Linked DNA regions of Homo sapiens: all the other regions are reported to be linked to region 2. The links are microRNA targets in miRTarBase. Many come from high-throughput screens and were not tested one by one. Region 2 holds a microRNA gene; each other region holds the end of a gene's coding sequence. Distances are from middle to middle.
Evidence for each region. Region 2 holds the annotated microRNA hsa-miR-545-3p (UCAGCAAACAUUUAUUGUGUGC, at 2,115-2,136, opposite strand). A microRNA usually pairs through its seed, bases 2 to 8, with sites in the 3' UTR of a target mRNA and lowers its output. Matches are read on the target gene's strand: a 7mer-m8 pairs with bases 2 to 8, a 7mer-A1 pairs with bases 2 to 7 and ends in A, and an 8mer does both.

Region 1 (3,000 bases), not on the chromosome of region 2:
GACGCTCAGAGGCTGGCAATAGGGGCTGTCAATGAAAAAACCACCTACAGTGGAGAAAAGAGCAGAGAAGCAAAACTTCATGTTAATCTCAGGCAATTTGGTGAAGCCAAGAGCTTCATTTATATTTCTCTGCTCTTTCAGCTGTAAGTGGAATTTTCATTACAAAATGGAAGGGTGGGAAGGGCAACAGGTGGGGGGACACTTAATTCATTACAGAATTTAAACAGTTGAACTTGCATGGTTACCACTTCTAACAAAGGACTGACAGCTCGATTATTTTAAGTAAAGCAGAGAAATGTAAAAGTTTGCAGCAACTGGGCAGGTTTACAACATGGTTAGTAACTTCCAACAAACAACAAAATTAAAAAAAAAAAAAAAAGACTTGGTAGAAACCATTTGAAATGACTGCCATCATGTTGGAAAACAGCACAGCTCCCTTTTCACCATTACAGAGCGCGTGAGTTATGAAGCAGAGTCAGCTACTTCAAAAGAATTTTCTAACGAGAAATATCTAGAGATTCCAACGTGGAATCCAAATTTGATGACCAATTTCAAATAACAATACAGCCGCAGCTGCCAATTAATAGTATTCCAAAGACAATGAGGACTACTGTAAAGATTTAATTAATAAAAACTGGACACTATCAGCCATGCTTTTTCTTCTCAGTGATGGCTCTGTTTCATCCATAGGTCAGCAAAACGCATCAATGAAACATGAAAACTCCCAGCTGAAATGGGCCCTCTTGTTTATGTCTAGCCACTAATGCACAGGATGAGAATGATAAGTTACAGCTATTTCCAGCAAGTGATGAGGTTTTATTAAAGTATCACCCACCACTAATAAAGACAAAAGACCAAGGAGAAGAAACAAACTAATCATTGTGTAATATATATCTGAGAAGTGACACTAACATTTGTTGTACATTGCCCATTTCACCTTTATTTAGTGGTCCCGAAGGAATTTGGTACATACATTTGCCATATTTTGTGAAGCCCATTCTCATGGATGGGCCCTGTCAAGTTCCCAAAAGCAGAACTGAATAGGGAAAATGAAAGCTAATTCATACTAAAAACAGACATTTTTAAGACATGGTGCCTTATAAATATTGACAGGGGACCACACTGCTGCTCCTTCATGGGGGTGAGTACCTTAATGAAACCATTGACCTAGTAACATCATTGGCTTTCCAAACAAGGTGAGAATGCAAGTGGAGGACTTAGGTCTGCACCCTTTACAGAACAGCACAATGTTACCCACTGATCCATTTCCACCAGCATCATCAGGTGTCTTAAAAAGAAATGCTGACCCATGGCTGAAACCTGTCACTTTTCACAGCAGCACTCAACAAGAACTGGGACAATCGAAGAGCAAGTTTTTATGGGGACCCTGTTGCTGCTTTAGATTCTGATGTAATTGAAGAGGAAAGGAGACCCTTCAATGAATCCCAGCAAAATCACTAATCTTCTATCTGCATGAAAAAAGCCAGGGAGTGAACACAATATCTTACAGAGTGAAGAAGGCCACAAGAACAAGAGAGGGTGATTGATTGATTAATTTATTATTTTTAAAAACTTGGAAATTCATAAACTAGGATAATCACATTCTCCTTCCCCATCTCTGGGTAGTGCCATCATTTTAATAAGCAATGCTCAAATAACAGAATGGAACCTTTATCATGGGGATGGCCCTTGTACAACAGGAGTACAAAGGGCTTACAAAGTGAGTAGACTGGCTCAAACTAACAATCACCTTTGCTTTGTTTTAGCACTTTGCTTACAAGTGAATGGGCTTCTAGGGCTAAGTTATTAGTTTTCAATTCCTTGTAATTTGATACCAAAACATATCAAAAATAATAAGCTAAAACAATATTCAAACCCATATTTTATTGGCTTTATTACACACTTCAATATTTACAAAGTTAAAGTTAAATGAAAAGTCTCTATTGTATTAAAAAAAATAACTACAGCCCAAATTAAAGTGCCCTGGGGCAAATACATATCAATCAACTAAGAATCAGTGACTGCATCAGGAACCAGGCAGTACTCTGTGTTACAACAAAGCAGTTTATTTGTGATCAGTGTTTGAGACTCTATACATCCTTCACAAATTTAATTTTACATAATCTGATACGTCTCTTAAAACTTAAACTTTGAACTGCTAGACTTTTATTTCCCTAGAACAGAAGGGCTGGTATAAGTTATTTTCCAGAAATGAGGTACCGTTTTCACAGAACTGGTTTCTTTTTTTTTTTTCAAGTTTTAGAGAACTAAATTTGCATTTGTTAAAATCAAAAAGTAGGAAAGATGTTCTTTACAAATAATTTTGATCAAGTATGTGTTCAAAGAAAGCAGGATAAAAAGGCTTTTTCTCTAACATTCTGTGTTGTACTGTATTGTTGTTCAATAGGAATTAGCTTCTGTCATTTGCTAAAAGAATGAGTAGTGGGGAACAGGATATGTTGGAAATTTCATAACGGGTAACAGAACCATTCTCTTGGGTAAACCTACAGAGAAAAGAAACGGAGAGGACTCCAAATAAGTTTTAATACTCCAATAAAAATTTCAGGTAAAAAAATATCTGACAGTAATTATCATTAACCTTTTCCAGATCAGTCAGTCAACATGTATACCATTTTGCAAGAGGCCCATAAATCGCTCACAGATCTATTTTGAAATTGCTCTTAATATTTTGATAAATAATATTTTCCACTCTCAAAATCAGGATGGCTACATCTAGGAAGCAATTTCATTGAGTGAGCTACCATGAATTCTGAAAATCAAAAGCAATGCTATTGAATCATGTTCTAATCGACTGTAGAAATCCATATTGGTTCTCAATGTGGCATATCACATATTCCAGGAGAAACGGGTTGTCAAGGTTCAAAGCATAGCTTTCCATGCAGACCTCAGCTCCAGCTGGAGCCATGGCCAGGCGTTTACTTAACTTCTTAATGGCTATGGCCAATATTGGCATGGCAAATCTGGAAAGATTAATTACTT
Region 2 (3,377 bases):
TGACATTAACACAGAAGACAGACAGATTTTTAAAACCTATTCAACAAAGATGAGTTACTGTGATAACACAAACAGTCCTGAATCTTATAGTAACATTTCAGTCACAGGCGCATATACAATGGTGGTCCCATAAGATAATAACACCACGTTTTTACTGTACCTTTTCTATGTTAGATATGTTTGGATATACAAATACTTACCACTGTATTCCAAATGCCTACAGTATTCAATACAGCAACATGCTGTACAGGTTTGTAGCCTAGGAGGAATAGGCTATACCATATAGCCTAGGTGTGTAGTAAGCTATACCATCTAGGTTTGTATAAGTACACTCCCCTATGATGTTCACACAACAACAAAATGACTTAATGATCCATTACTCAGAACATATCCTGTCTTTAAGCAACACATGACTGTATAGTTAAATGTTAATTATAAAATCTAGGTGTTGGGTACATGGCTTTTCACCGTACAATTCTTTCAACTTTTCTGTATGTATGTTTGACAACTTTCACAATACAATTTTGGGAAAAATCCAGCAAGCAGCTTTAAAAATATGGCTGTAAGACCTTTCCTTCTATTATATTTTATTCCTAGGATGATCCTATCCAACGAGATGAACCTATTCAGTGTTTCCTCCATTTTGTTTTAGATTTAGCTTTCTCAAATATGACTTTGAGCTCTCCGACTTTTTAATGAAGTGAAATGAATCAACATGTATTCATAGGCAGGTTACCAAGATAGTACATGTAAAGTTGGGGAGGCACAAGGGGAGGGGCTCTAAGCTCTTGGAAGTCTAGGCTCACTATCTGTATACATCTAAATAAATGAGTATTTCAGACACCCCACTTCTTCATTTAAAAATTAGTGTTAGGGACCCTCTAAACATTTGCCTCAGCTTACCTTTCTGCCTTATCTCACATTAAGTCCTTATTTCCCATATTCTCATTGCAAAGAACTGTGTAGGAAGGAGGGGGGCAAGGACGAAGGCACCAAAGCATGCTATGTCCACGTGCTTCAAGTTTGAATATAATAAAAGGTATTTCTAGAGTAGAGGTTCAAAGCTTGATGTTGAAGGGCAGGGTATAACTGACTGACTGCAGGACCCTGGGGGAGGTCTTATAATCTTCTACTTTAAAACATGTCTTAGCTGGCTTATCTGTAAAAGAGGAAAAAGACTTGTCACAAGCAATGACAAATGAAGTAAATAAATATGAATTTCTGGTCTGGTGAATGGAATGAGAAATGAAACCATCACTGTCGAGTGATGATCCAGAGTGGGCACAGATCTTTTTCTACAAAGGCTTTGTGGGCCACAATGTCTCCAATATATTTAATGGCAAAAACAGCAACTACTTTTGCACCAACCTAATAGCTACTTAATTGTGCCACTGGGCCGCAAAAGCGGCCCCAGGTAAAACATCGATGAATGAACATGGCTGTGTTCCAATATAGAATGGTATTTACAAAAACAGGTAGCCCATGGGCAATAAAGTTTGCCCACCCTTGGTTTAGAATATGGAGTCTGGTTGGGTGCAGTGGCTCACACCTGTAATCCCAGCACTCTGGGAGGCTGAGGGAGGTAGATCGCTTGAGTCCAGGAGTTCAAGAACAGCCTGGGCACCATAACGAGACCCCTTCTCTACGAAAAATACAAACATTAGCCAGGGGTGGTGGCACACACCTATAGTCCTAACTCAGAATGCTGAGGTGGAAGATCACCTGAGCCTAGGAGTTCGAGGCTGCAGTGACCCGTGTTCGCACCATTGCACTCCAGCCTGGGCAACAGAGTGAGAACCTGTCCCTTAAAAAAAAAAAAAAAAGAAAGAAAAATGCAAAGTCCTATCTAAGAATACTATTTGGATGATTACCTGGGCCCTGAGGATGAGGCCCCAATCTAACAGTTATCACTCAAGTCCCACCAAGAAAGCAAGTGTCAGCAATAGCAACAGTTGCAACATCTGTAAATATCAAGGACTGAAATCCAAACACAAAAATGGCATTGTCTCATGAGAAACTCTTAGGAAGATATATACAGAAATATCAAATTTCTGACCACATGCTTTTTGAAGAAACAGCTGACAATCCAGAGCCTGTGGAGCTCACTTTAGCAGGCACACAATAAATGTTTGCTGATGAGTCATTCATTTATTCATCTAATAAACATTTACTGAGGCCTACTAATGTGCCAGGCTGGGCTCTGGAGATGAAGACACCTTCCTTGCCCTCAAGGAGCTCACAGTCTAACTGATAACAGGAAGAGAGACAGGCATATACACAGACAATTACAATACAATCTGATAAGTGCTATAACACTTATCAGGTTGTATTATAATGGCCGATGTAAAATTTCTTCCCAGGGGGTGCTGCTCCAGGCTGCTGCTGGCTGTAACATCAAGAGAGGTGAGGAACAAATTATAGAAATCAAAGGTTAAATGCTTTTCGGTTATTTCAAATATTCAGGCTTTCCCTAACCCGTGGCCATAGACGGAATTGGGAACTAGACACTGGCATGATGTAAAATGGGACTTCCATGCACAGACTTCCAATAAAGGAACTTCTCAATCCCCTCCTCTAAAATATGAGCTTTTTTTTTTCCTTTTTGCTTATACTCCTCTTAACCTCCCCACCCTACTACCCACATGAGCCTGGTTTAATATCTACAGCTAGCAAAATGCTGAAAAATGGGAGCTTACAACTAACTGGATTAACCCAGTGTAACCGGATAGCAAAAAGCAGTAAGTAATAGCTCATTTGGCACTTCTAAATCCAATAATCCTCATCCTTCACTGGAAAAAAAAAGTTAGAATGTTATTAAATACAAAATAGATAATATACAGATCAGAGTAGGAATAAGTTAGAAAAGTTTATTTAATAAACATAATTAAACAGATTCTCTAAACTAGAAATAACATTCAGTTTCAGGAAACCAGAATTAGACCCCTCCAAGACCTTTGAGAATATCTAATTCACCTATGTATTATAAACAAGAAAAATGAAACAGAGAGATAACACACTCTGCCCACTCCCTTTTCAAAATCATGTGAGTGATAGTAACAGACTCCTTGAGGCAAGATTATTACTGTAATAGTTATTTGGTTCAGATGGTTTTATACAAAGATAAGATGGCATTTTTCTGTGCCTCATACCTTTCTTAATAATACCTAGGTTTTTACTGGCTTTTTTGTCTCTGACCAGCAAATAGGGCTGATAACATCAGCAAGTTGTTGACAGTTATACTGAGATCACTGTTTTGGGACCCAATGTCTCTATGAGGCTGTTATTTAATAAGCTTAACATACTATTTTCCCCTAAAGTTATTTCACTGCTCTTGCCTATACACTGTTCCTTTCTGCCAATTAGCCCACTCCTGGTGC
Region 3 (3,377 bases), not on the chromosome of region 2:
CAGAACAGGGCTCACTTGGCTGTTTTGAATTGGGAAAGAAAGAGGTGAAAGCGGGGAGAAAGAGAAAACACATAACCTCTAGGTAGGTAGTACTGTTTCCAACTGTCTACGTTCCAGTGCAGAATCTTTGCTAAAAAAAAATTTGGCAATAGTGTGCACAGGAAAACTGAATCAAACCTGGAACATCACTGCTTTCTTGAAATGGAACTGACAAGCAATTAACTGGAGAATAAGTGAGGGGAATGGAGCAGTAGTATTCTTTAACTTAATTTGCCATTTAAGAGAGCACTTGGAATCTGAAGAAAGTCTATCCCTACCAAGGAAACGGAGTCAAATTGCAATTAAGATTAACTTTGGTTATATGGAAGCAAGAATCATGCTTCTCATCATCAATTGCGTCTCTTTGGTAGCCAATAATTCCATCTGTAATCATGGCAGCAACTTAAGTATTGCCAATGTTTTCAAATGTGTTACAGCATTAAGGCATCCACATCTAAAGAGGCAGTTTTAAACAAGAGGAAAACGGAACTGAAATGTGCCAAGAAGTGAACACGGACATGGCCTCTCCTGGAATACTGCCCACCATGCCAGCAAGCTCTTCCTCCAGTCAAGAAGGCCTGTGCCACGCTGCTTGGTTCCCTGCTGCCTGAAGATGCATTTGAGCCCTATGAGATTAGTATGGCTATTTCTGTCTGCTGACCAGGAGAGAAATGAGTAGTTCTCGAGGCAGCAGCTTTAAAATCTGGGAAAGCCCATACATAGCTTCTGAGAGCTAAGAGGGCCCTGAAAGGTTTGCTTGTTAATAGTGAGGTCCAGAGGGGAAGGCAAATTTGGAAGTCAGATGGTTCAATCCTTGCCGGAGTTCAAGGCTCCATCCAGCAAGATATACTAGCCAAACTTTTAAGCATGATGGCAAGGCACTGCTGAAAGAGGCTTTGGCCAGTAGAACAAATTACCATTGCACACAACAATATGATAGAAAGCACTACTGTCCAAACCAAACCAGACACTACAATCTGCTATTTATTTGACAAAGTCAGTTTCCAGAGAGAATCTAGGCAACCATATAGTTTTGAAGGACTAGATGAAACCTCAAGTCTCACACCAGTCAGCTGTTAACATCCAATCAAGGAAGTCATTTGGACTTTCCATACTATACCTTCTCTTGGTAGTAAAATTGTATGCAATTGTTGCCAATGACTACATACAACTGTATCCTATTTGTGCTACTTTCCTCACTGTGGCCAGCAGAGGGCTCACAAGCTTTATTTCCACAGCTGCTGATCCAGTGACAAATTCATGAAGGAAATAAATCATAGGCATGCTAGCTTATGCGTCATAGAAAACGTTTTTACAAACTACTACGTCCACTGCCCTGAAGAAACTAGTCTTGGTTCCCCCTTAGTGTAATGTGTTTTGAAATGGTATAGAAAGTAAAAATAAATTAATAATACAATATTATACACTTATTTGACAAGACAGGGTTTACAAAAATTTTGGCAAATATGAAAAAAAAATTATCCTAGTCTGTTAAACACTTTTGCTATCTCAATTGTTTAAATTACCAGATTAGTGATTGTGTCAATTTACACATGAGGAGGTGGTATTTTAAGGGCTCAACAAAGCGGCATTTGACACAAAGGTAATTTCTTTGAAGGGGGATAAAGAATAAAGATATTATTATCTTCATTATTACAGTTCGAGAAGTGGTTGTCCTGATAAGAATTCATCCCACACAAATATTAACACCAGCAGTAAGCAGCAAATTGTGGCGAGGAGAGGCTAGAGGGAAAAGTTAGAAGAAAAGCAAAGAAAAGACGAAGAGACAAGAGACATGATTCCAATAAGCTTTAAATCAATAGGCAAACACTTCTCATTTATGATCCATCTTGCTACAGGTGGTTATGTGAGAAGACACAGTGTCGCCAAAGCTGACCTAGTATTTAGGTCCCTAGAGGGATTGCTGATCTGCTAAGAGAAATAATTAAAAAAAAAAAAAACAAAAAAAAAGGACAACCATACATTTTGGTAGTCTTTTAAAAAAAGCTACTACAAAGATATCAATAACCATCCAAAAATCACTTAAAATTTAATATCCCTTAATTTCCAAAGACACTTTGTGATCTGACTGTTCTTGAAGGAAAGCCTAGAACTGAAACTACTAGAACTTGGCTCCTCTCTAGGAATGTGGAGACAGGTATTCTGCAAAGGAGAACTTGACAAGGAATGCTACAAAATACCAGTCACCTCTTTAGAAGCTCCTCCCACCTCTCCTGCTCCATTTGATGGAATGGCAGGCTGGATTCAGAGAGGCACGTGCCAAAGGAGCTGTTTAAATCCCTCTAGACATCCCTTTTCAATGGATATCTCTTTTGAGTATAAAGAGAGCTTTCAATGTGTCTTGCTATCATTTTCCTGACCCTAATCCCAGATTAACTAGAATCACCTTTAGCATCTAAGTGAGTGGGTGCTATGACCTTCCATCAACGCATGTGGCATAGATGCTAAAGCACCAGTCTTACATGGTGGGAACCATGTTAAAAATCAATGGATAAAGTAGCAGAGCCTCTAAACTAAGAAGAAAGAGACATAGCTTAATTACAGAACACTGTATTTTCATAATCACTATTTCATTGTGAGTATGAAGTTCTCCTCTTTTCCTTAAAACTAAATTCCATCTTCCCTGAGAATAGGGTTAAGAGAAATATTAAAACGCAAAATGTCAAGGGCCTTTTAAAAGATAACACAATGGGATGTCTATAGCTAACTGCAACGTAAATGTGTTTCTACTCTAAAAGCTTTTCCATTACTCAGGTTTTAACCTCACCTCCCCTCTGGACTCTAGGAATACATGTAGAGATGCGCAAGGTGAGACAAGAGACTGAGGAAGTGAGTAGCTGTCACGTGCCGGCTGTTCTCACTGGATGGCAAACGGCCCTGGACCAAGGCTGGACCTTGAACATTTAATGCTGGTGTCCTACTGACAGGATGAGAGGGATGAGGCAACCCAGAACCAGGGCTGCCACTTCCAGGCGGCTGAGGCCTCTCCCTCCCGTGGCATCGGGCTTGTGGCTGTGCCCTATTCCGCCCACCTCAGGGAGGACATGTACTGTGGCAACATAAAGAAATGTCCCGGCAGAGAAAAGCATGGCCACTCCCGTGGCGTTCACCTCTGAAAGGGCTTCTTTACTGCTCTGTGAATTAGAAGAGAGAAAGAGGAAAAACTAAGTCAAGTAAAATTCAGGGTCAGGAAGAAGTCCCAGTTAAAAAACACTCACTGTTCTTAACTGGTGCTGTCTAGGACACTGGGGACATCTAGAGAACACAGCAACTTTAAGTTATTCATGGGAAGCTTCCAAATAAGGGTTTAAGAATAT
Region 4 (3,377 bases), not on the chromosome of region 2:
AAGATTCTGTGCCGACAGCACATTCTCTATTGGTGATTACTAATCACCCACTGCTTACAAAGAAAGGCACTGTTTTCAGTAACAGGGTAGTTTAAAAAAAAAATCACACAATGTTGTTCAACAACACCATCTTTATTCAAAAATATATATCTATGAGACATTTCAGAATATACTGCTGCCGCCAACGACAGCCTATACTTCTAAATAGTCCTAAATTAATATACAAATTTAAGCTTTGAAAATATTCTTTAAGAAAAACAAACAAACAAAAACAAGGGAAGATTGAAGACTTTCTGAGGAATATGACCTAAAGGAAAGGTCCTTTGAGGCCTACAGATGCCCTAAGAAAGAAAAAACACAAAAACAAAAACCACCCACCCCACCCACCAAGTCACCTCATACATACAAGGAGGAAAGTTCATTTAAATTAAACAAATGAAGTAAGCACACTTTGGGAGGATGTGGACAGCAGAATTAAGATTTAAAAAACGAAAGCATTTCATCAAAACAAAAAACTAACTTCCTCACAGGAAGTCCACTAGTAACAGGTATTAAGAGGCCAACACATTCATTTACATAATTGCTACAGTTTCATTTCTTAACTTTTGCTGTAATAATTATGCACCAATTGCTGGTCAGAGACTCAGTTGGATAAAACAGAGCAGTGGGCTAAATCCATTCTGCTATATTTTCATCTAGTTGATCAGAGCAAATATCTACGATCCTCTTTTGGCTGGATTGTGGCTGCTCAGATCGCACTTCCTTGGTGAAAGCATAGAGTGTCCCAGATGGGCCTGCTCCAAAACACGCTCATCTAGAAAGCAGCACACCACGGGGGGTGGGGGAGAGGTTGGGGAGTGCAGCAGCAGCAAAGATTACAATTTATCTTGCAATTTTAGTGATGTCACCTATGGCCTCTGGAAGAAAAACCTTATAGACTCATTAATTTAACAGTGACAGAACGACAGGCAGTGTCCATAAGCAAACAACACACAGTCTGAATTCAAATCTGAATAACAGCTCAAACACTACTAGGTTCTACACAGAGTTAAACTGAGTATCTGCTATGACTTTTCATTGTTCTCACTTCATGACAAGCAGGAGAGCTTCTGGAAGGGAAGCCCGTTATGCTTTATAAACATAGGTTATGTTTCAATGTGTTTAACATGTAAAATTACATGTAATTTTTGGTGATCCTGGAAGTAGCAACACAAATTAATGGAGATTACAAAGCCCCCTCCACTGAATTCCTTTTTATATAGTTTGGGTTTCAGCCTCTGGTCTATAACTCCTATTACACTACTGGGGCAAATCGCTTTCTGCCCTTTCCAATGTCAAAAATAAGCCTGCCAAATTAGAATGATTTACAATTGGCAGGCTGAACCTTTACTATAAGCAAGATAAAAATTGTCTCTAACTACATTATATAGTCATAATGTCAGCTGACATGATAATAGAATTAAAACCCCCAATTAATATCCCCAACTCCCCGCTTCCCCTGCCCGAGACGAGCTATTCAATAACATCTGACGCAAGTACTCCCCGTCGTGTGGGGACAAGGACCTGTGCAGTGGCGTGACATGACAGACGGACCTGCTCAGCGTCCTATTTGCAGTGATGTTCGAGTTTAGCCACCGTACTGTGGACATGCACCCAGACAGCGGATTAAACGTTAGTGTGTACCCTACTCCCAGAAGAAAGGGTCCAAGAAACACCCACACAGATCCCAAATGCAGCACACCTGTGTGTGGGGCCTTCATCTTTTGGAGCCCACCAATGCCTGCCATCCCTAACAACTGCCTTCGCACCCACCAGGGATCAAGGCATTCTGTTTTTCGGAACGTGCTCCGACAGTGGAGAAGTGCAGCATGGGAAGGTTGTATCTAGGAACTTGAAGCAAATAAATTCCTTTTAATTCATGCTTGTGATCCCTGTTATTCTGTCTCTGAACTGTGCCTTTATGCTCCAGATTAGCTTTGAATCTTATTGCTAGATTCTCCAATCTGTTTACAAAATAAATGCACCTAATCTTCGTGCATCACTAGGAGAAGCAATGGAAAGGGAGGATCAGAGATTTGGCAAACTCTTTATGGCAACGCTACGACAGCTGTGCCTACAACCTTTTGGGGCAGATGCAGCTGGGAAAGCCAACGTCTCCAGGACAAGTGCCTTAGTGGAAGCCCACACCGAACTTGAACAAGCCCAGCCCAGAAAGGAGAAGCTGCTTTCATGATAAAATGCTGTCATGAGGGACAAGATTCTTTCGAAAGCTTCCAGAAGTACACATGATTTTCATAACTTCTTAGGTATAAGGAGACAGTTAAGAATGGAAAACCAACAGGGGGGCATGAAAATATGAAGTGGGAGAAAAAGTCTGTAGTCTTTGCAAATATGAATATAAACCAGATTCCAGTCGCCACTGTTCTGAACTGTGCTCAAGATGAGAGGCTGAAGAGGAGAATCAGAGTCTGAGGTTCTTTCTTGAGGCTGGGGGGCTGGGCGGAAGAAGGGATAGAACCAGGGGCTAGAAGGTTATTTCCAACCATGACTTGCCCTCTTCTTTCTGCTGGTACAAACAGAAATCTGGGACATGACACCCATCCTAGTCAGTTGAAAACAGGTCCCCAGCAGAGGGCAGGGGGGCTAAGCCCCCTGTGACGTTGGGCAGCAGTGAGAGGTCTGGCAAGCTCTGAATATGGGATTTCAGTTCCTTGCGGACCTGGGTTACTCGTGCAAGCTTCTGTTTGTATTCCTAAGGAGATAAAGAGAAGACAATACCGTTAAGTCTGTGCGTGCCGAGGGCATGGGTGCTGCTGGAGCCGGGCAGCTACTCTCGTCCTCGTGTTCTTCCTTGTCCCCACCAGCCTGCCCACCCTGTTCAGCTATATCACAAAGCTAGGGCTTCAAATGCTCAAAAGGCAAAACTTTCTATCAAAAAAGGAACGCAGAGTGCCATATTGGCAACAGTGAATTAAATGGTATTCAATTTAGGGCTTGAGATTTGGAAGTAGAAAGAAATAACACTTGGTATTTGCATTCTCTTTTTGTTGGTTCTCAAAAGTTTCAAAATGCTTTATAAAATAAAACAGACACCTGAGCCTCACAATTTCTTTGCGGACTCCACCTAGATATGGCAAGAAAAAAAACACTGAAGTTATACTTCCTATGTTAAAGCTTGGAGATTAACCTAAATTTATCATGTTTTGCAAACAAGCACTATAGAAGCTCAAAATACCCCACTGCTACTCCCTGTGACCAGGGCCTCCTCATTCCATAACTGAGTCACTGCAGTAAGTCCCTGGTTAGGCCTCCTGACCCCTAGGGCTCCTAAAATGCCACCAGACTTCTCTCCCAAAAGCCCAGCTTTCATGAAACCA
Region 5 (3,377 bases), not on the chromosome of region 2:
CCCTGCACGGTCACTCCATGGACTGAGCTTTGCCTCTGACTGTCCTGTACCTGTGCCTCTCTCCCCACTGCAGGTGGAACACTACAACCACCACACAGCCACCTGGCACCCTGCAGCTGGCATGCTCAACAAGCGCTGCCGGCACGGAGCCGCCTCCCTGGGGAGCAAGATGTTTGTCTGCGGGGGCTACGATGGCTCTGGCTTCCTCAGCATTGCCGAGATGTACAGCTCTGTGGCAGACCAGTGGTGCCTGATTGTCCCCATGCACACGCGCAGGAGCCGGGTCTCCCTGGTGGCCAGCTGTGGGCGCCTCTACGCTGTTGGGGGCTACGACGGACAGTCAAACCTAAGCTCAGTGGAGATGTATGACCCAGAGACAGACTGCTGGACATTCATGGCCCCCATGGCGTGCCATGAGGGAGGGGTCGGTGTGGGCTGCATCCCTCTCCTCACCATCTAAGGCAGAGGATGGGATGTGGTGGGGCAGGGATCTGGTACAGACATAGGCGCTTCCTTCCAGGAACAGTCCCTCAGGAGAGGCAGTGGACCAGAAGAGATGGCGAAACGTGAGCTCGCCGGAGGTACAGTTTTTCCAGGTGCTTAAGCCCTCCCCCACTGTGCCACCCTTGTGACCTTCAGGCTTGGGTCATCAAGATGCACAGCATGGAACACAAGCTCCTCTGGATCCTGCAGCTGGTGACATGGAACTGTTTTCTGGTCCACATGAACACAGGCTCCATCCAGGCCCAGCTCCTACCCACCGCCTCTCTGTGGGCCAGCTGTTCACAGAAGGCCTTCCATCTGATGCTCCCCATCGCCTGCTTGCTCTCCAGCCGAGTCTGGCCAATTTGCCATGGGGAGGCTGCAGTGTCCAAGCCTGCTGGAAACTGGGATGTAGCTGGGGACGAAAGGACAGACCCAAGCGTTCTCCCTGCCTGAGATGGTGTGGCCACAGCAGTGGAAGGCTGCACACAGGCACATTCCTTCTTCCACAGTGGGGCACCAAGGATTCTGTCCTCATTGCTGGGTAAGCAGGGAGAAGAGAAGTTTTCCCCATGTCTAATTTTGGGATTTCAGTGAGGCCTTTTGATCTGTCCAGGAGAACAGAAGGGAAAAAAAGATACTTGAAAGAAACTGAAGGAAATTTAAACAAAGAAACACTTGAAAGAAACTGGAAAGAAAAATAATTTTTTTATGTGAACAAATTTTGCAAGAAGAAAAAAGCATAAAAGACACTAACGGCAAATCTATGTTTAAATGGAAAATCGTCTAACTGGAGAAGGGCGGTATCCACCCCACATTCGGATCCCAGGGTCCTGAGGCCTCGCATTGAGCTGGGGGTTCCCTCTGAGCCCCAGTGTGTGTGGAATCAGTGCACTCTTGACTGGGCCTGTAGTAAGGTGCTCATGGGGTTTGTCTTCTCACCCACCATCAGAGGACTTTTAAAATCATAGGCGTAGAGAGTTAGGCTATCTGCTGAATTACTGCCACTCTTCTTGGTGGGGGCTCCTAGCTGTGGCTGGGGGCTCCAGGCGCCCCTGTGATTACCTCCTACTGCCACCATGGCGCTCATTCAGATTCCCCACTCTCACTAACATTGCTTCCTTTTTTGACCAGCAGGAAACAGCAGGTCTGGCCAGATTCTCACTTGCCCATCAATCTCGTTCTTGGATGATTTCCCTCATTGTGATGCTTCTGGGGCACGTTGACCATATGCACCTCTAGAACCTAACCAGGGCTTCCTTCTACCAGCTGTGGGCGGGCTTGGTCTGGTAACCTTGTCTGCTCTGCCATTCCACTGCTCCTCCATCCACTCGCCAATCCCAAGAGTCTGGCCTCCCTCCAGCCCTGGGCAGACTGACCAGCAAGGTGGACCTTTACATTCAAGCACAGCTGGCTTTTATGACATAAAGAACTAAAGGCCGAAAGAATCTCTTGCTGCTGCAAAGAACAGATTTTATATTTCTTCCTCTAATCTTGGCAAATGACCTTTACCTTTTGGAAAGATTTCATATTGCTTCCTCCTCCCTGGATAGGACCTAATGTAGCACAGCGGGACTCAAAGAGGAGGACATTTTCTCTTGCCAGTGCACTGGGCAGTGGGGCTGTCCTTCAACTGCTGCTGCCAAAATTGGTTTTCTAAAATTCTTCCAGTAGAGACTAAAAGAAGATTCAATTCCTGTAACCCAAGACTGAGTCTTAGGGCTCCAGTCTCCACCTGCTTGGTTTCCTATCCTTTGCTGCCTGCCTGGGGTGGCCTGGAAGCCTGTTCAGAAAGGCACAATGTGGAGCCTGGGGTGTCTCCCCCACCCCAGGACCGTCAGGTTTACCAGTGTGTGCAATCGCCATGTATTCAGAGGGAAGTACCTTTGTTACCTACAACTTAGGAGCTAGGCCTCTGCTACAAGCACTTGAAAATGATATTTTTATTTTTAACGTCTCAACAATCTGATATCGGATGTCGTTTAACCTGGGCTCGTGGTAGGGCTCCAGCATTTCTCCCTCCTTCCTGGTTTGCCTGTAGGGGTAGACTCGGAAGGTGGGTGGGGTGTGCATTTCCTGTTAGGAGTGTATCAGTGCTTGTCTTATTATAAGCCCCTTTCTTTTGTGAATTTGAAGTAGCACCAACAAGCCTGGATTGTGAAGGTATTAAGAATCGGTCTGTGGGCTACTGAGTGGGTCCTTAGGATACTGGCCCAGATTTTGCCACTGGGTATGGCAGATCATTTTCTACCATGGCCTGCTGCTCTTGTAGTGGACTTCCTGAGTCCAATCCCACCTCCTGGTGTAGAATTTACACTGCTGCACCTGAGGTCGATGTTTCAAAGTAAGATCAAGCCAGTGTTTTGATCTGGGCTCTGAGCACAAGTCAGGAAACACCAACATATTCACACTCTCCCAGTAGGTTCCTCAGTCCGATGGTGAATGGCTATTCGTAAATGGCTGGTCTGGCTCTTTGGTGTTGGAGCCTTTCCAATAGCCCCATGAAAAGAAGCATCACCCAAGGATATTGTAAAAAGGATGTAACAAGGAGATAGGGTAGACATTGTACTCAGTGGGCCTTGGGGCCTAGCCCAGCTCTGAGCAGAGGACTGTGGCATTCACTGTCCTTGAGTGTTTCACCTTCTTGGATAACACACGGGCCTTCTCTTCTGGATTTCATCAGAGATTACAGCCAGATGGGGGCTGAAGACCATCCTCTTGACCACAGAGGTGTGACTGTGGGAATTCCTCCCAATTTATGGTTTCCCAGAAAATCTTAGTTCCTTTTATTTATAGAATGCATGTCTTTTGTGTTAAGAAACCAAAGAGAAATAAAGAGAACACTCCTAATAGCTCTTGTCCTTTCTTGGTTTATTTCTCAGATATTAGAAGTA
Region 6 (3,377 bases), not on the chromosome of region 2:
AGACTCTGTCTCAAAAAAAAAAAAAAAAAAAAGAAATTCAGTTGAGTCAACTGATATTTAGAAGGACATAACAAATTATTCAAGAAGCTAAAGCTTAAGCCTAAGATATTCTAGAATCTAGTACTGTTTGTGCTATTTGAAACGTGTGAAGTTTGAAGTGGTCTTCTGTTACACCTGTTTTTTGTTTTTTTGTTGTTGTTGTTTTTGGTTTTTTGTTTGTTTGTTTTGCTTTGTTTTGTTTTGTTTTATTCTCTTTACAGTGCGGAAGGCAGTCATGTGTCAGGACAGAGCAACGGCCGGGATCCTCAGGCCTTGGCTAAGGCTGTGCAAATCCACCATGATACCCAGCACACGATGTATTTTGCCTGAGAGTCTCAGAAAAAGAACTCAACCAATTTGGCACCCCATGCAGCCTCAAAATGTTTCAAATGCCTACCGCCTCTAGATCGAGCCACGTTGACTTCAGGTGGTCTTCTACCAGCAGCTCGGAATAGTTGCACTGAATCTATACTTTGCAGCACTGTCTGATGCGTCAACAAAATTGAGCCATTTTTTTAAAGTAATAGATACTAATAGATTATCTTTTCTGATGCACTGGACTGAATTTTTACCTCAATGTGCAAAGGCTGATCAGCCTGAACTTTCTAAAGGACTTTACAAGAAGGGTTTCTATGGAATATTTTGCTAGCTGTGGTGTTCACCGCATCCCTCTAGTCTTAGAAGAGAAGATTATTCCTTTTTTCTGTAGTCATTGAGTGGGGTATATGCATAAGTGGGAGAGAAAAACCAAACAATCTACTTCAGTTCAGTGTAACTATTTAATTGTGTGGGTCCATAGACTTTTTAATGAAGATTTCTGACTTTGCCACTGTAAATGCCTTTAATGAGCATTAATTTTTGAAAGTTTTACAGAGTTTTATTAGTTTTACTACTTTATCTTATTGATCTCTGCAGACTTGTGCTGGTGCAAGTACATGCTGACAGGCAATTTGCACTATATTTGGCTGCAGATTCAAATAGGCAGTTCTCTTATTTGGTCGACTTTTGTGAATGTGTGACATAAACAGATGTAATGCATGTCACAGTGACGGAGATAACACTGCCATGATAAAAGTACTCATGTTTCCCCTATTTGGAAAAAAAAATTGCTTTTAGTATTTTTCCAAGTTTTCAAAAGTGCCCATTTTATGCTGCTGTGTGGTTTGTTAAATCTAAATGATTTTTAAACTTTTCTCATAGAAACTTAACTTTGGCAATAAACATTTTTTAAGGTCTCTCCTCTTCCTTCCCCAACAATGTAGTTTTCTAGATGAGATTTCAGTATGATTTTATCAGCTATTTCTTATATATCATAATCTGGCAATTTCTGAAACCAGTCAGAAAAGACATATATTTCCATGCCTTTTTAAAGAATTATTTTTACCTGTTTTATATTCACAGTTGGTGTCCTGTCACTTTGTTTTAAAATAAGCTAGAACCAGGATGCTTCCTTATTGGAAAGGCTTTGCCAGTCCTTAAGGTACAATGAGTGATGCTGCAACTTGCAAATGTACCAGCATTTAAAATTTCTTTTCCTGGGAATCAAGGTAACTCACACGACTACTTGCAGTACAAATTTTTTGCTTCTCTTTCGACATGAAATGTACTTGGTGGGTTTTCCTTCCTTTTATTAAACTAAAACTGTGTGGAAAAGGTTGATTTTTCTTAATAGATTCTGGATTCCACTCACAGGGAGATGGGATTCCTTTCTTGTCCAAACAAAGGGAGTTGCTCTAAAGCGAGCATCAGTTAAAATGTAGGGGAAAATGTATTCTGTATGTAGTGTAGATAATACTTTGTGAATGGACAACAGTTACATAGTGTCTTGGTAGCACCAGCCAGTGTTTCCCAGCCCAGAGTTTACTGACTTGTAATTCTCTATCCAGGACATCAGGAGTGAGGGATGGAAAAGGGGATAAAAGGCCTGGAGCCACACTCTATATGGCTGAGGAAGGAGCTAGGGAAAGAGATAGACACAATGGGGTGAAAACAATTTTGCCGCCCCTGCCTGGAAACTGCTGGTGGGGAAATGATGGTGAAGGGTGTTTGCTTGAACTCATGAGACGGTCCAAATCTCATAAACTAGCCTTCTCAAAATCCCAGCAATATAAAGCACTGTTTTTCTTCAGTCGTTTAAATAAACTTGTAAATACATTGAAGTTTACATTTCCATGTGCTGTTGATCAACGGCGCCACCTGTGTTTGCTGAGACTGGTCTCTGAGAGAGTTTTATGTCGATCGAGGCCTGTTGCTCATTAAGCTGAGTGCAGACGTCCTTAATCCCTGCAGATAGTGGGATGAAAGCAAGTTCTGTAAAATGAAGCACAACATAGCCAGGAGTGAAGAGATGGCAGATGTTAATTTCTTAAAATTTTCCTTTTTTTTTTTTTTTTTTGCAAATACCTCACTTGGATAATACAAATCAGGACATGTTGGTGAGGGGCTGGCTGCTTGGCTGCTGCTTTTATTCACACTTGTTCAGGGAGAGCACAGAGAATACCCTTCAGCATGGCCACTCTGGACCCAAGAGGAGGAAAAAACGGAAGCTTTTTTAGGAGAAGGAGGACTTGCTGGAATCCAAGATGTGAAGAACTCTTGGTGACTGGCTGGCTGGCCAGCGGGCACCACACCTGCACTTGAGTGCCTCGGGCTTGCTTATTAATAACGCACAGAAGAAGCATCACTTCTCACCATCTCCTGGCATGTATGGAGCAGGGAGCAAGGCTATGTTCCCGAAAGCCCTGATTAGCTTGTCTTGCTCTACGCTCGACCTCGAACAATACAGCTTGTAAGACCTCAGTCAGTCCTGGTACACTGGGGTAAATCAGTGTGGTGGTGGAAGAAAAGCCGGGAGGCCTATTTTTATAGGAAAATAGTACCATTAAAGGTGCAATGCTGTCATTTTGGACAAAAGGAAAGAAATTTGGAAGAGCTGGGATTATTGGCAAAAACTTGCTGAGGGGTGAATCTTTAGAGCTAATCACTGCAGAATCAGAGTTGCAGCAATATGATTGCAAGCAAGTCTGAATGCATAGTTTTACTTTAATTCGGCTTGACAATTTGAATAGGTAACCCCCTCGGGACTGACTGAATCGTTATGCATGTGTCAATCAATGGGAGGTGTGCATTCTCTAGAAGTAGTTTTAGGCTGTTTGGTTTGGTTTTGGTTTTGTTTTTTAAATGCAGCCTGTTGAGGCACTGTCATGTGGTGTGAAAGATTTAAATGTAGCAACGCTAAAGAGTAATAATTTGGGGATAAGAAGTGGGGACATTGGCCGGGCGCGGTGGCTCACGCCTGTAATTCCAGCACTTTGGGAGGCCTAGGTGGGCGGATCAGC
Region 7 (3,377 bases), 25 Mb from region 2:
GCGCACTCCTCTCCTTCAGACTCCAGATCCACTCTGTCTGGAACCCAACCCCCCTGCTGACCCCTCCACTCCACACCTCCTCTCCAAGACCACCTTGGGTCCTAAACTGTCCTCTCTACCCCAAGCCCCCCCAATCTCTGCCTTTCTTTAACCCTGGAGTTGGATTTCCCTAACGGCCTTTGTTCAGGCAGGCATTGCTGGAGGAACCAAGGCCAGAGTTGGGAGGAGTGGAGGGAGAGAGAGGAGAGAGTCTGAAGTCACGCCCACCCTCCCCACACAGCCGAGGTCTGTTCCCTCCCTGTCCTCCTTTTAGATCCCCTTAACCTCAGGGGACAGGGAGGGTAAACAGAGAGGGGCCAAGGGATGCAGGGAAAGGGACGGGGTAAGAGAGGGGGCCCACTCAAGACTGGGCACCTAGTGGATGAGGGGAGTGGAGTGAGGGCAGGGCTCAGACAGATAAATAGATATTTATATATAATATATATATATATAAACAGCAAAGACAGGGTCTCCTGGCTTGAGGGGTGGAGACCTAGGGTATAGGGGTGGGAAGGGGGGCAGGCCTTCTCCTGAGCTCTTGCCCCCCCCAGGTCCTCCTGGGCTTCACTGACCTGTAGAGACAAAAGACACAGAAAGGAGAGGGGGTCTGACATGGGTGGCGCCCTCAGATAGGGGTTGGGCTGTTATGCCTTTGTCCTGGCTTTATGTCTTTTCTTCTTTCCTGGAGCCAGCTTCATCCCAGCTGCCTCTGCTGAGAAGATATACCTGACCTTGCCCCCACTGGGTTAGGTACCAAAGAGATTACAGTCTCCTTCCTCCAACCAAAAAAATAGTCCCTTAACAGGTACTGTTCTAGCCATTTGTGATAAACTATATTGAGCAAAACAAAGATCCCTGTCTTTGTGGAGCTTATACTGAAGCAGAGATAGACTTCACACAGCGAACATGATGCATGAGTGGATTATCTCGTATAACATAGGGTGACAATAATAAGTGAAATGGAAAAAATAAAGTGAGCTGGGCATGGTCGCTCACACTTATAGTCTCAGCTACTTGGGAGGCTGAGGTGGGAGGATCACCTGAGCCCAGGAGTTCAAGTCTAGCATTCCTAAAGTGCTAGGATTACAGGCGTGAGCTACCACGCCCAGCCTGCGACAGGGCAGAGTTCTGACACAGGAGGACTGTGGCCTAATTTAGGATTTAACAGAATCCCTCCAGATGCTGTGAGTAGAACAGAATGGAAATGGAGACCTGAGAAGAGGTCTGGGAGAGATGACAGTGGAAGATGAAGGATATATTTTTTGAAGGTAGGACCCACAGGATTTTTTGATGAATTAGATGTGGGATGCCCTTTCCATCCTGGCTAACCCAGTGTCAGAAGCTACCTCCATCCAAGTATTGCCACCTTCTTGCCTTCCCCCACTTTTTAGCCACCCCTTAGCCTTTTCCTCCTGCCTTTCCTCCCCTATATCCTCCCTCCTATCTGAGGGAAATCTCACTTCTCTTTTTCTTTTTTTTTTTGTTTTGAGACAGAGTCTCGCTCTGTTGCCCAGGCTGGAGTGCAGTGGCGCAATCTCGACTCACTGGAACCTCCGCCTCCCAGATTCAAGCGATTCTCCTGCCTCAGCCTCCAGAGTAGCTGGAACTACAGACGTGCGCCACCATGCCCGGCTAATTTTTATATGTTTAGTAGAGACGGGGTTTCACCGTGTTGGCCAGGCTAGTCTCGAACTCCTGACCTCAGGTGATCTGCCCACCTTGGTCTCCCAAAGTGCTGGGATTACAGGCATGAGCCACCTCACCTGGCCTCTTTTCTTTCTTTCTTTTTTTCTTCCTTTCTTTCTTTCCATTTTTTTTTTTTTTTTGAGACAAGGTCTCGCTCTGTTGCCCAGGCTGGAGTGCAGTGGCAGGATCATAGCTCACGGCAGCCTCAACCTCCTGGGCTTAAGTGATCCTCCCACTTCAGCCTCCTGAGTAGATGGGTCCACAGATGCATGCCACCACGCCCGGCTAATTTTTGTATTTTTTGTAGAGGTGGGATTTCATCATGTTGCCCAGGCTGGTCTCGAACTCTTGGGCTCAAGCGGCCCGCCCGCCTCGGTCTCCCAAAGTGCTGAGATTACAGGCATGAGCCACCAAGCCCCGACCCTCACTTCTCTTTTAAGGCCCAGCAAGAAGGCCGGCAAACCTTTCCAGGACCCCACCCTATCCCTCTTCCTCCTTTGAAATTCCACACTACTTCCCTCCCCTCCAGCGTTGGGGAGAGGCGGCAGATCTATCCCCTCCTCCCGGATTGGTGAGCTCGTCTGACCTTCAAGATCCACGCCCATTTACCCTCACCATCTATTGGCCTTATCACCTATTGGCTTATCAGTCACTTCTAAGACCCACCTCCTCGTCGCTTCCGTGGCTCTTGCGCTCCGCTGATTCGCCACTGCGCAAGTCCCCCGATATTCCCTCCCTTTATTGGTTGCTCTGCTTCTCTCCCCCCGCCTTTCCGCCGAGTTGCCCTTCTACCTCCCTCCCATTGGCTCTTCATTCTGTCCATCTTGAAGCACCATTCTTCTTTTCTCCATTCATTAGCTAGTTTTTCAGCTCTTAGCAGGTAGTTCTGCCTCTTGATTGGCTCCTTCAAACTTCAGTCCTTACTTGCCCCAGTAAACGCCTTACGTACTCTCTACCCCTGACTCTTATTGGTTCACTGACCCGCTCGTCTCCTTCCTTGTACCCTCCTTGGCCGCACCGCTCGCCGGTCACTCACCAGACTACATCTGATTGGAGAAGGAGGTGGGTGCACCCTGCGGGCCGTAGCCTTGCTGCCCATAGTCGCCCTGAGGCCCGTAGCCACTGCCACCGCTGCCGGCTGGTTGACCATAGTCAGGCTGGTAGCCGCCCTGAGGCCCGTAGGAATCCTGGGGCCCGTACCCGCCGGGGCCCTGCCCGTAGCCTGCATCGCCGTAGGCGTCCCCGGGTGCCGGTTGTTTCTCGGGGGCGCCGGGAGGCGCGCGCAGGAACGGGGCGGCCCAGCCTGTCTCCTTAAACACGAACCACAGGTTGCCGACCCAGAGCACCAGGTTCAGGAAGCCGAACACCTGCAGGGAGACAAGGCTCGGCTGTGGTACCCCGCCCATTGCCTTGGCGGCCCTGCGTGCAGGAATGAGCATGCGGGGAATGAATCCGTAGGCTCCGCAAGGTGGGGGTTTCTGAAACCCAGACTCTCTGAGTCCCAGTGCGAGAACGTCGATGTGCAGAAAAATCACCTCTGGCGGGGTGGGCGTGTTAGAAGAATTTGGAGCCCTGGGGATGCTGCGATCTATCAGTATTACATATACAATTATTTACATATTTGCACATATACACATTATATACACATTTAT

Region 1: the mRNA of STRBP is a reported target of hsa-miR-545-3p. Seed matches in the 3' UTR shown: 7mer-m8 at 1,447-1,453 and 8mer at 692-699.
Region 3: miRTarBase lists SLC39A9 as a target of hsa-miR-545-3p. Seed matches in the 3' UTR shown: 7mer-m8 at 1,760-1,766.
Region 4: the mRNA of RPRD1B is a reported target of hsa-miR-545-3p. Seed matches in the 3' UTR shown: 7mer-m8 at 867-873.
Region 5: the mRNA of KLHL18 is a reported target of hsa-miR-545-3p. Seed matches in the 3' UTR shown: 7mer-m8 at 2,237-2,243.
Region 6: the mRNA of AGO4 is a reported target of hsa-miR-545-3p. Seed matches in the 3' UTR shown: 8mer at 2,241-2,248 and 7mer-A1 at 2,992-2,998.
Region 7: miRTarBase lists SYP as a target of hsa-miR-545-3p. Seed matches in the 3' UTR shown: 7mer-m8 at 495-501.

What each region holds. Positions count from the first base shown.
Region 1 is chr9:123,123,170-123,126,169 of GRCh38, forward strand. STRBP (spermatid perinuclear RNA binding protein) reads right to left here. Exons shown (of 19, transcript NM_018387.5): 19 at 1-2,504. The coding sequence ends at 2,428. Among named protein-coding and RNA genes, the nearest start is that of MIR600HG, 9.2 kb to the left of the region's middle.
Region 2 is chrX:74,285,012-74,288,388 of GRCh38, forward strand. It overlaps MIR545 (microRNA 545), which reads right to left and starts at 2,198; the gene lies at 2,093-2,198. The region is part of intron 1 of FTX (FTX transcript, XIST regulator); the gene reads right to left. MIR374A (microRNA 374a) reads right to left here and starts at 2,346; the gene lies at 2,275-2,346. LOC124905199 (a long non-coding RNA gene) reads right to left here. Exons shown (of 2, transcript XR_007068266.1): 2 at 2,854-3,377.
Region 3 is chr14:69,458,180-69,461,556 of GRCh38, reverse strand. It overlaps SLC39A9 (solute carrier family 39 member 9), which reads right to left. Exons shown (of 7, transcript NM_018375.5): 7 at 1-3,194. The coding sequence ends at 2,964. Among named protein-coding and RNA genes, the nearest start is that of PLEKHD1, 25 kb to the left of the region's middle. RefSeq lists a silencer at 1,220-1,269.
Region 4 is chr20:38,089,101-38,092,477 of GRCh38, reverse strand. It overlaps RPRD1B (regulation of nuclear pre-mRNA domain containing 1B), which reads right to left. Exons shown (of 7, transcript NM_021215.4): 7 at 114-2,752. The coding sequence ends at 2,603. Among named protein-coding and RNA genes, the nearest start is that of RPRD1B, 57 kb to the right of the region's middle.
Region 5 is chr3:47,343,482-47,346,858 of GRCh38, forward strand. It overlaps KLHL18 (kelch like family member 18), which reads left to right. Exons shown (of 10, transcript NM_025010.5): 10 at 74-3,335. The coding sequence ends at 460. Among named protein-coding and RNA genes, the nearest start is that of PTPN23, 36 kb to the right of the region's middle.
Region 6 is chr1:35,853,237-35,856,613 of GRCh38, forward strand. AGO4 (argonaute RISC component 4) reads left to right here. Exons shown (of 18, transcript NM_017629.4): 18 at 261-3,377. The coding sequence ends at 369. Among named protein-coding and RNA genes, the nearest start is that of AGO1, 28 kb to the right of the region's middle.
Region 7 is chrX:49,188,672-49,192,048 of GRCh38, forward strand. It overlaps SYP (synaptophysin), which reads right to left. Exons shown (of 7, transcript NM_003179.3): 6 at 2,762-3,092; 7 at 1-611. The coding sequence ends at 2,766. Among named protein-coding and RNA genes, the nearest start is that of PRICKLE3, 4.0 kb to the left of the region's middle. RefSeq lists a silencer at 1,573-1,652 and an enhancer at 2,492-2,561.